Regions from separate parts of the Homo sapiens genome. Here all the other regions are linked to region 1. Evidence: fine-mapped expression QTL. A gene starts in region 1. Each other region holds a variant in brackets. All regions are shown on one strand. Distances are between the middles of the regions. Region 1 holds the start of MDM2 (MDM2 proto-oncogene). Region 2 overlaps RAP1B (RAP1B, member of RAS oncogene family). Region 3 overlaps CPM (carboxypeptidase M). Region 4 has its middle 20 kb from the start of MDM2.

Region 1 (2,677 bases):
TGGAGCAAAAAGCCTGGAATTTTCAGGTTTTACTTTAAAATTTCTCTAATGACAAAAATCTTTAAAACAAGCACGAATAACTTTTTTGACTTTTAGAAACCATTTTTAAAAATTAAATACTGGGAGGTCAAAAAGGAAAAAAAAATCAGTCACGTAACAAACGTAACTTCAACCACGCTTAACAATGTAATGGAACTAATTTTTAAAGCAAATGTGGCAAATGGCTAAAAAAATACTGACCAGTTCTTAACAGTTTTTAACTCCACGCAGTTACGCCAGAGGTAGCACACTTTAAGCTATGCACATACAATTTTATTTACAGAGCCATGCTACAATTGAGGTATACGAAATTTAGTTTATCACTTCATAAAATAAATTATTCTTAAAAGTTACACGAGACAAAAATACTAACCAGGGTCTCTTGTTCCGAAGCTGGAATCTGTGAGGTGGTTACAGCACCATCAGTAGGTACAGACATGTTGGTATTGCACATTTGCCTACAAGGAAAAAAAAGACACGATGAAAACTGGAAATCATGAAACATCTGTGGAAAATACATCATATATAAAGAACATAAACAACAGTTAAAACTAAAGCTACAAGCAAGTCGGTGCTTACCTGGATCAGCAGAGAAAAAGTGGCGTGCGTCCGTGCCCACAGGTCTACCCTCCAATCGCCACTGAACACAGCTGGGAAAATGCATGGTTTAAATAGCCCCAGCTGGAGACAAGTCAGGACTTAACTCCTTTTACTGCAGTTTCGGAACGTGTCTGAACTTGACCAGCTCAAGAGGAAAAGCTGAGTCAACCTGCCCACTGAACCGGCCCAATCCCGCCCAGACTACGCGCAGCGTTCACACTAGTGACCCGACAGGCACCTGCGATCATCCGGACCTCCCGCGCCGAAGCGGCCCCGCAGCCCCCGGCCCCCGTGACCTTTACCCTGAACTCCCGCGGAGACCTCCGAACCACCCCCACCCCCACCGCCGCGAGAGCCGTCCGAAATCCCGCCCTCCTCCCTGGCGGCGACTGCCTAGCCCCAGTCCAACAAAACCTCCGCAAAGCCACGTGCCCCATGCCCCGCGCCCCGCGCCCCGAGCCCCCAGCCACGAACCGCACAAAGGCTGCGAACGGGCAGAGGCTGGGAACCAGCGATAGAGGGGACACCGTCAGAGCCCAGACCCAAAAGTGACCGCTCGCTGCCGGGCCAGTACCTGCTCCTCACCATCCGGGGTTTTCGCGCTTGGAGTCGGGGGTCCCTCAAGACTCCCCAGTTTCCTTCACGGGGCGCGCGGAAGCACGACGCCCTGGGCCTCGGGGATCATTCCACTCTCCGGGCCAGGGCACTGGGCGCTCGTACGCACTAATCCGGGGAGGGACGGTGCTCCTGGCTGCGAAAGCAGCAGGATCTCGGTCAGAGGGGTCGCGGCCGCCCCTCGGGCTCGGCTTCTTGCTCCATCTTTCCGACACACAGGGCCACACAGGCCCCAGAAGCAGCCAAGCTCGCCGCGGTGCCTCGGTGCGCGCCCCCTACCGCCCGAGGGGAGCGCGCGGGTCGTCGCGGCGCATCCGGGCATTTGTGCGCGCGCACACAACCGGCCCCGCTTCCGCCAATTGGGTCCGGGGCTCGGCCGCACCACCTCCGGGATGATGGAGTGGGGGGTGTCGCCCCGCGGGCGCGGCGGGCTGTGAGGCGGGGTGGGGGTGTTGGCCGCGAGCTGAGAGGGTGGGGCTCGGCCTGGCGCGGAGCCAGCAAGGTTTGGCGCTGTGACACTCCTTTAGCCGTTGCGCTATGTTTGTATTTCTTGTGTTTACACTTCCCGCCCGCGGTGGAAACTGCGACAAATGCGGATCTCCGTGTCGCTGTTACCAAAAAGAAACCAAAATTAACAGCTGTTTAATATATTAAGCCCACTCCACCAGCCGCTGGAGTTGTACCCAAATGAGTTATTTTAAGGCCTGTTTTTAAAAAAGATTAAAAATAGCACTTAAGGCAGGCTTATACACCGGTGCATACAGCTGTTCTGGTTGGAGAACGAAGATGCTGGTTACCGTTGGCGGGGAGGGGAGCGGTTACTCTGCGCTTTTAGAATGTTTGGGTTTGGCTGGGCGCGGTGGCTCACGCTTGTAATCCCATCACTTTGGGTAGGCCGAGGCGGGTGGATCACTTGAGGTCAGGAGTTCAAGACCAACCTGGCCAACATGGGAAACGCCGTCTCTACTAAAAACTACAAAAATTAGTCGGGCGTGGTGGCGGTCACCTGTAATCCCAGCTACTCTACTCCGGAGGCTGAGGCAGGACAATCCTGTGAACCCGGGAGGCAGAGGCTGCAGTGAGCCAAGATCATGCCATTGCACTCCAGCCTGGGCGACAGGGCAAGACTCTCAAAAAAACAAAAACAAAGTTTGGGTTTGTTAATCTACACATTCATTATCATTAAAATATATACTTATATATTATGCACTCATTCTGACTCACCTACTTTCCCACAGAGATGTGGCAAAAACGTTTTTGATGCGGTCTCATAAATTGAGGACATAAAGAATTGAGTTAGCTAAACCCAAAAACACAGCCATTGCAAAGAAGGAACACGTTTCTTCTCTGGCCAGTAAGTGATTAGCTCCTTGTGAACAAGGACCTTTTTTTATAAAGTTATATCCTTCCCTTCTGCAGCTTT
Region 2 (2,686 bases), 150 kb after region 1:
CCAGCCTGGGCGACAGGGTGAGACTCCGTCTCAAAAAAAAAAAAAAAAAAGCCAATCAAAATTTACTAAAAATCAAGCCACTTATTAAATGGATTTACAAATTAAAAAATGTTCCCTGAGGTTGCTGTAATTATGTAGGGTCCCCCCAAATTCCCTTGTTTCAGAAGTCCAGAAAATAAAAGCATTTACCATGGGTGTCTCCCAGCTCTCACAATATTTGCTAAAATTAAACTGCAGTACAATGAGTCTTATTTATGTATTTATTTTGAGACAGGGTCTCACTATGTCACCCTAGATGGAGTGCAGTGATGTGATCTCAGCTCACTGCCAACCTCCACCTCCCAGGCTTAAGTGATCCTCCCACCTCAGCCTCCCAAATAGCTGAGACCACAGGCACGCGCCACCATGCTGGCTAATTTTTTTTTTTTTAAATTTCTGGTAAAGGCAGGGTTTTGCTATGTTGCCCAGGGAGGTCTTGAACTCCTGAGCTCAGGGGATCTACCCGCCTTGGCCTCCCAAAGTGCTGGGATTAGAGGTGTGAGCCACCATGCCCAGCCTGGTTCTTACAGTATGCAGATCAGCAAAACCAACACCACTTCGAAACTTGTTAGAAATGCAAATTCCTGGGTCCTACTGCTGACCTACTGAATCAGAAGCTCTGAGATCTCAGCCCAGCAATCTGTTTTAACTGGTCCTACAGGTGATTCTGATGCAAAATCAATTTTGAGAACCACTGCTATATTTAGTGTGATGAGGAATTAAACTCCATTATGGTAGACTCTGAAGGGGCACCTAAATTAATAATGTTAGAATCTAATGTATTTCTTGCCTTTAAAATCCCAGCACTTTGGGAGGCTGAGGCAGGCGGATCACAAGGTCAGGAGATCGAGACCATCCTGGCTAACATGGTGAAACCCTGTCTCTACTAAAAATACAAAAAACTAGCTGGGCATGGTGGCAGGCGCCTGTAGTCCCAGCTACCCGGGAGGCTGAGGCAGGAGAATGGCGTGAACCCGGGAGGTACAGCTATCGCACCACAGCACTTCAGCCTGGGCAACAGTGCAAGACTCCATCTCAAAGGAAAAAAAAAAAAGGAAGGGTGTAACATTTAATTTTCACAGGATAATGGCAAAGGAGGAAATTTCTCACTTTCCACATGATATATATTTGAAAACATGTATGGGTATTTTTGCCTTTCAAGGAAAAAGTTTAAAAAAACCAACACCCCCCCCCC[A/CA]ACCAAAATACACAAGCTTTAAAATGAATTTAAATTTAGACTTAAACAATTATAATCAGGGTTTTGAAATAAAATATATTTATTTGGAAGTCAGCTTACATCATCAGTGTCTTTAACTCGAAGAATCTGTTCTCTCAGGTCTTGTAAATCGTTAAATGTGGACTGTGCTGTGATGGAATAAACTAATGCAAATCCTTGTCCATTTTTCATGTATAAATCCCTCATTGCTGTAAATTGCTCCTACAATAGAAAGAAAGGAACGTTAAAAAACAATAATGTTTTGACAGTTATTTTTACAATTTTCACAGTCTATAATTATAGCTCAATGAAGAATACTGTAGTATTATGTAACTTTGTTAAAATTATAATCTATGACAAGATACTATTTGAAAAAATTGGCATTTTAGTTTCTTTTTTTTTTTGAGACGGAGTCTTGCTCTGTCACCACGCTGGAGTGCAGTGGCGCGACCTCGGCTCACTGCAACCTCTGCCTCCCGGGCTCAAGTGATTCCCCTGCCTCAGCCTCCCGAGTAGCTGGGACAACAGGCGCACACCACCATGCCCGGCTAATTTTTTTCTTGTATTTCGGTAGAGACGGGCTTTCACCATGTTAGCCAGGATGATCTCCATCTCCTGACCTTGTGATCTGCCCGTCTCGGCCTCCCAAAGTGCTGGGATTACAGGCGTGAACTACCACGCCCAGCTGGAAATAGGTTTCCTATTTAAAAACAATACACCAAAGTCGATTTATATACAAAAAATATACTCAAGTGGAACAGAAATATCCTGTCCCCAAAAGTTACTAAAGGCAGCTTTTAAAATACATCATCATGTATAAAGCACCCCAACTGTATCTGCCAAGTTAATCTATTAGCTATGACTCAAATGCTGTAGTTCTGTAGGGCTCCATCAGCATGATCTAGACCATCCCATTTTCCCACACTACTTTTTCTTTGCTAGACTGTGAGCATTTGAAGGTAACAACACAGTGCCTGACATGTATCAGGTATTCAAACATTAGCTGAATGAATACCATACACCGAGAACAAATCTTCCCTTCATCTTCACATACCTACAAATTTAGTTTGTCTATAAATACGTTGAAGGAGAACAGATACCAATCAAAATATTTCTTTTTCTTTTGAAATGGAGTCTCACTCTGTCACCCAAGCTGGAGTGCAGTGGTGTGTTATCAGCTCACTGCAACCTCTACCTCCAGGGTTCAAGCGATTCTCCTGCCTCAGCCTCCCGAGTAGCTGGGACTACAGGTGCCTGCCACTGCACCTGGCTAATTTTTGTATTTTAATAGAGACGGGTTTCACCATGTTAGCCAGGCTGGTCTTGAACTCCTGACCTCAGGTGATCCACCCCCCTTTGACCTCCCAAAGTGCTGGGATTACAAGGCATGAGCCATCATACCCAGCTCAATCAAAATATTTCACACAGCTGCTG
Region 3 (2,686 bases), 61 kb before region 1:
AACCACCCCAAAATTAGCGACTTAAAGCAACAGCCTTTTTATTTACTGTTGATTCCATAGGTCAGGAATTTGGGCAGGGCAGAGCAGGGATGGCTACTGTCCGTGCCACAGGTCTGGGGCTCAGCTCTGGTCTTTCTGAGACAATTTACCTGGAGCCATGGACTCTCCGTGGACTCTCCACGTGGCGACCATTGGGATCTCAAGGTCCCAAAAGGGAGCATCTAAGAGCAGAAGTCCCAAATACAAACACTTATCAAACCTCTGCCTGCATCACAATAGCTAGTATCTCATTGGTGAGAGCAGATCACGAGGCAGGGGATGCCATGGGATGTAAGTGCCAGGTGTGGGTCATGGCAGGCCACAAGGGCAGCCATCCACCACACCCATACTCACGTTTGGAAAGACACCTGGAGCCTAAACCAAAGGGCAAGACACTGTAAGAATCCACTCCCTCATGCCCTATCAATAAGCCCTAAAATATTCTTTCTTTTAAAGGGAAAATTATAACCAGTATGACTTGAATCGAAATTTCCCCGATGCTTTTGAATATAATAATGTCTCAAGGCAGCCTGAAACTGTGGCAGTCATGAAGTGGCTGAAAACAGAGACGTTTGTCCTCTCTGCAAACCTCCATGGTGGTGCCCTCGTGGCCAGTTACCCATTTGATAATGGTGTTCAAGGTAAGCAGGTGCGGGTCCAGTTCTGGCTTCTTAAGTCCAGAGTGGGGCTGAAAACTCTCTGCCTCTGGATGGGGATCAGCTCTCCCTTCCCCTCTTAACTTCTCTGGCAGGGTGAAAAGAGCTTCATGTTCCCAACTCTAGCCATCCTTCCTGTGATTCTTCAACAGCAGATGGGCAGTGTGGCTGAACTGACAACCCACAGCTGGACATGCATCAGTGAATTAGTGAAATTTAGATTCTAGAAAATACAATCTAAATAGTCAGATTTTGATTCTCTGACAAGAGACAACATGGCTAAAATAACATAAAACTGGAACAACTCACTTTTTTTTTTGCTAATCATATATGAACAATAATTGTTGACTCTTCTTAAAACTCTGTGGGATGAGGACCCAAAATATTACAGTAGCTTTATTCACCCCTATAATACCTAAAGAAATTGTCCTTACCTCCAGAAATTAGCAAGAGTGACTGAGAGGACACTTAATTTTTAAGCTGATTTAGGAGTTTGGATTTGT[A/G]TCTGACTTATTTGGGGGCTATCACCTTGCATATGTTTATTATAAAGTAGAAAGAAGAATAGAGGAGGTGGATGAAGGATTTCTCTCTAGGGAAATTAGAGCATGTGTGTGTGATGCGATTATGTCTTTGCTAATATGGTGTTTGTGTTTCCTCTTACTCTCAAGTCAGTTTAAAGGTCTTGGTTCATCTTTTAAATGCAGCAACTGGGGCATTATACTCCCGAAGCTTAACGCCTGATGATGATGTTTTTCAATATCTTGCACATACCTATGCTTCAAGAAATCCCAACATGAAGAAAGGAGACGAGTGTAAAAACAAAATGAACTTTCCTAATGGTGTTACAAATGGATACTCTTGGTATCCACTCCAAGGTGAGTTTCTCTTCATTTCTTCCATTCTCCTTATTGCCTTCACCCAGAAGTGCCAGCTGGTTTATTTTGATCCAGCAGTTGTTAAAAGAACTTTAGGCACAATAGGCCCTTCACTCTGTCCTTATCAGCTAATATCATAAGAGCAGTGGAGATGACTGATTGTTTGAGAGATGCTCAGACATGTTCCTCATTACCAAGGGCCTTCTTCATTCATTCAGGTACTTATTCTGTGTCTGCCTACTGTGAGCCAGGAACTGAAAGATGAACAAGACACACACCTCACCCTGGAGTTGAATAGGGGAGACAGACACGCAGATAAGTAATTGTGATAGCAGTGCAATTAGAATAAAAACAGATTTAGAGAAGGTGCAGTGTACCCCAAGGGTGCACAGAGCCAAAATACAATAGGGAGTAGTGAAGAGCTTGGAGAAATGTGATGCTTACATCCCATCTAACAGGGACAGCTGCTACTAGATCTAGCTAATTATTGTCATGCAGCCTTGGGGAGCCAATACTGCCAGATCTTGCAGTTTGTAAAGAGAAGCTGAATTTGTACATGAAGTATCATGATTTTAAAGCCATTTTGCGGGCTCAACAAAAGAGCTCTTCAGACAGGATACAGTGGGAGGAGGGCCCCCAGTTCTCCAATCTTGGAATAAGACAGCCGGGTAAGGGACAGGATGAGATTGTCATGTAGGCAACATGGAAGGAGAGATATTCTTATTAGAGGGAATAATATAAACAGAAACCCGGGGTAGGAGGGACCTAGGGTGGAAGGACAGGAGGAGAGACGGACTGGAACTGGATTTCCATGCCTCAGGGGAAAACATTCCCTTTTAGACTCGTTAGCCTGACCCCACCAACAGCAAGTTGCGGCATGCATTTCTGCGTGCAGGCCACTTCCAAAGGTGCCTTCCCTAATTGTCACTTTGGATGCACAGGCTTTCAGGTAATCTTTCACAAGCTGGTATTTTTATGCCTGGGTGGCTCTCTGTCAGTTTTCCTGGTAATATAAATAAGCATAGACCACAACTGATAGGCAACAGGTCCAGGCAGCATTCCAAACCTCTCTCTGGTGTCCAAGATACAGCCCCCTCTCCTACCTTAGGGCTTCTG
Region 4 (2,686 bases), 21 kb after region 1:
TGCTTTAGCCCAGGAGTTGGAGGTTGCAGTGAGCTATACTCGCACCACTGCACTCCAGCCTGGGCAACAGAGCAAGACCCTGTCTCTAAAAATGATAATAATAATAATGCTGTGATAAACTTCTCTGCACAAAAATCTTTATGCAGGGCTGGACGTGGTGGCTTACACCTGTAATCCCAGTACTTCAGGTGGCTGAGGCCAGAGAATCACTTGAGGCCAAGAGCTCAAGACTAGCCTGGGCAACAAAGAGAGACCTTGTCTTTACAAAAAAATTAAAAAAAAAATAAAAAACTTAGGCACACTCGGTGTCATAAGCCTGTAGTCTCAGCTACTCAGGAGGCTGAGGTAGGAAGATGGCTTGACCATGGAAGTTTGAGGCTGCAATGAGTTATGATCTTGCCACTGCACTCCAGCCATGGTGACAGTGAGACCCCATCTACAAAGAAAATCTTTTTGCACATCTTTACTTTCTTAGGATAAACTCCTGAAAGTGGATTTTCTGGGTTACAGGGCATGAGCATTTTTGTGGCTATGCAATTTATGGTCTCATGATGAATGTAAGATGGTACTTGTTTTCCCATACCCTCGACAGGACTAAATTTGGGAAAACATGGATTTATAGGTCTCTATGAAAATTAAAATGTTTCCCAATTTTATATGTTTAAAAATTTCATTTAAGAACAATTTAAATCCATTGGAAAGAGCTGTAGAAAAAGGAATTTGTAGTAAAAGGGATTTGCTTTGTGTTGTACTTCAGTGAGTGCTGGGTCTTTTTTTTGTATTAATATTCCCAAGTTGAAGTAGAAGTGTTCATCAATGCTTTAACTTGTGGGCTTAAAGGAGAGGTGTGATACAAGGAAAAAGGGGTGGTGGAAAATATTTTTTAAAAAAATGTAACAGGCCGGTTGTGATGGCTCACACCTGTAATCCAAGCACTTTGGGAAGCTGAGGCAGGTGGATCACTTGAGGTCAGGAATTCGAGACCAGCCTGGCCAACATGGTGAAACCCCGTGCCTACTAAAAATACAAAAATTAGCCAGGCATGGTGACACCCGCCTGTAATCCCAGCTACTTGGGAGGCTGGGGCAGAAGAATTGCTTGAACCCAGGAGGAGGAGTTTACAGTGAGCCAAGATCGTGCCACTGAATTACAGTCTGGGTGACAGAGCGAAACTCCATCTCAAAAAAAAAAAAAAAAAGGAACACGATAAGAAATCAAGGCGAAAAGAAGAAAAGAACAAACATGGGAAAGGAAAATGATGGGAAAGCAGGCAGGCCCGGACTCTGGCCACCGCACGGGCTTTTGCCTGGACTTGCCCATTTTCCTGTGTCATTGCTGT[C/T]CCATGTTTTCAGTTCACAAGTTGAGCAACTGCAGCTTCCTTTATCATTAGAAGAGGAAATGAAAGAGCAAGGGTACAAGTAATTACTGGGGCCAGCACAGAATGTTTTTTGTTTGTTTTTTTCTTTTTTTTTTTTTTGCCCGGCTTGTTTTGTTTTTTTAGAGGGAAAACCCATGTGTTGCAACTTGTTCAATCACCAGGATTTTAGTCCTCTGACCTTCAGACGTTAGTCATTCCTTCCTCTTAAACAGCTCCTTCCCTAGTTTTTGAACTGGTCTTTGGGTTAAACACAACAGGGCCCTTCTAACCTCTCAGAAAAGTCTGAGAAATAAATTCAAATTCTAATAAGTAGTATTTCTGAATGTTAAAATATGTATGAATTGGCTACATATTTTATATTGTTAGTTCTCTCAGGATCTTTCCTATATAGTGAAATTCACTGAGCTAAAATGTAATGTTAAATACTTACAAGAGGCTTTGGTTATAAAATGACTGAAGAGGAATTTCTCTATAAATAGGTTTAGGTTTAGGAAACCTGCAATAGCAGTGGCTCCACCTAAAGACCAGAAAATGACACAGTCTAACTGTGATGTTTTCAAGCTTAGAGGCGGTCATTCACTTTAAAAGTAAAGCGACATGGTTTTTATCTCTCACCACCTTGCTTAAAAGTGATGCAGATAACTTAAAAAGTGATTTAAAAACATAAATTCAGCACATAAAACACATAATCCATAAAACACAGCACATAAAAGTATGATAGAAAATTATTTAATAATTTTAAAAAGTAAATTGTAGTTACTCTTAAAAGAAGACTAGAGTCTTTGCCACAGTTAAAAAGTAAGTAAGGTTAGGCCAGGCGCGGTGGCTCAAGCCTGTAATCCCAGCACTTTGGGAGCCCAAGGTGGGCAGATCACGAGGTCAGGAGTTCGAGACCAGCCTGGCCAATATGGTGAAACCTCCGTCTCTACTAAAAATACAAAAATTAGCCGGGCGTGGTGGCAGACGCCTGTAGTCCCAGCTACTCGGGAGGCTGAGGCAGGAGAATCGCTTGAACCTGGGAGGTGGAGGTTGCAGTGAGCCGAGATCGTGCCACTGCACTCCAGCCTGCGTGACAGAGCGAGACTATGTCTCAAAAAATAAACACATAAAAATAAAATAAAAAGTAAGTAAGGTTAAAAAGAAAGAAAAGTAAACTAGAGTCCAGACCAAACTAGACCAGAACTTTCCTAGCAAAATTGAAACAGTTATTTAGCTGAGTGTGGAAAGGTAAATCCTATGCATCATGTCACAAGTACACACATCATTGCTAGGTGGGATGGCTCATGCTTGTAATCCCAGTGCTTTGGG

The links. PIP is the estimated chance that this variant, and not a neighbour inherited with it, causes the effect.
Region 2: its variant is fine-mapped to the expression of MDM2 in whole blood (INTERVAL, PIP 0.98).
Region 3: its variant is fine-mapped to the expression of MDM2 in whole blood (TOPMed, PIP above 0.99).
Region 4: its variant is fine-mapped to the expression of MDM2 in whole blood (INTERVAL, PIP above 0.99).

What each region holds. Positions count from the first base shown.
Region 1 is chr12:68,807,028-68,809,704 of GRCh38, reverse strand. MDM2 (MDM2 proto-oncogene) reads right to left here and starts at 1,528. Exons shown (of 11, transcript NM_002392.6): 1 at 1,214-1,528; 2 at 413-497. The coding sequence starts at 1,227. RefSeq lists enhancers at 551-940, 40-1,239 and a silencer at 1,441-1,830.
Region 2 is chr12:68,652,900-68,655,585 of GRCh38, reverse strand. RAP1B (RAP1B, member of RAS oncogene family) reads right to left here. Exons shown (of 8, transcript NM_001010942.3): 5 at 1,334-1,474. Among named protein-coding and RNA genes, the nearest start is that of SNORA70G, 27 kb to the right of the region's middle. The variant A/CA (reference allele first, on the strand shown) is at 1,235.
Region 3 is chr12:68,868,209-68,870,894 of GRCh38, reverse strand. CPM (carboxypeptidase M) reads left to right here. Exons shown (of 9, transcript NM_198320.5): 5 at 496-680; 6 at 1,400-1,570. Among named protein-coding and RNA genes, the nearest start is that of MDM2, 61 kb to the right of the region's middle. The variant A/G (reference allele first, on the strand shown) is at 1,199.
Region 4 is chr12:68,786,352-68,789,037 of GRCh38, reverse strand. No RefSeq gene overlaps it. Among named protein-coding and RNA genes, the nearest start is that of MDM2, 20 kb to the left of the region's middle. RefSeq lists enhancers at 685-1,238, 1,239-1,793. The variant C/T (reference allele first, on the strand shown) is at 1,340.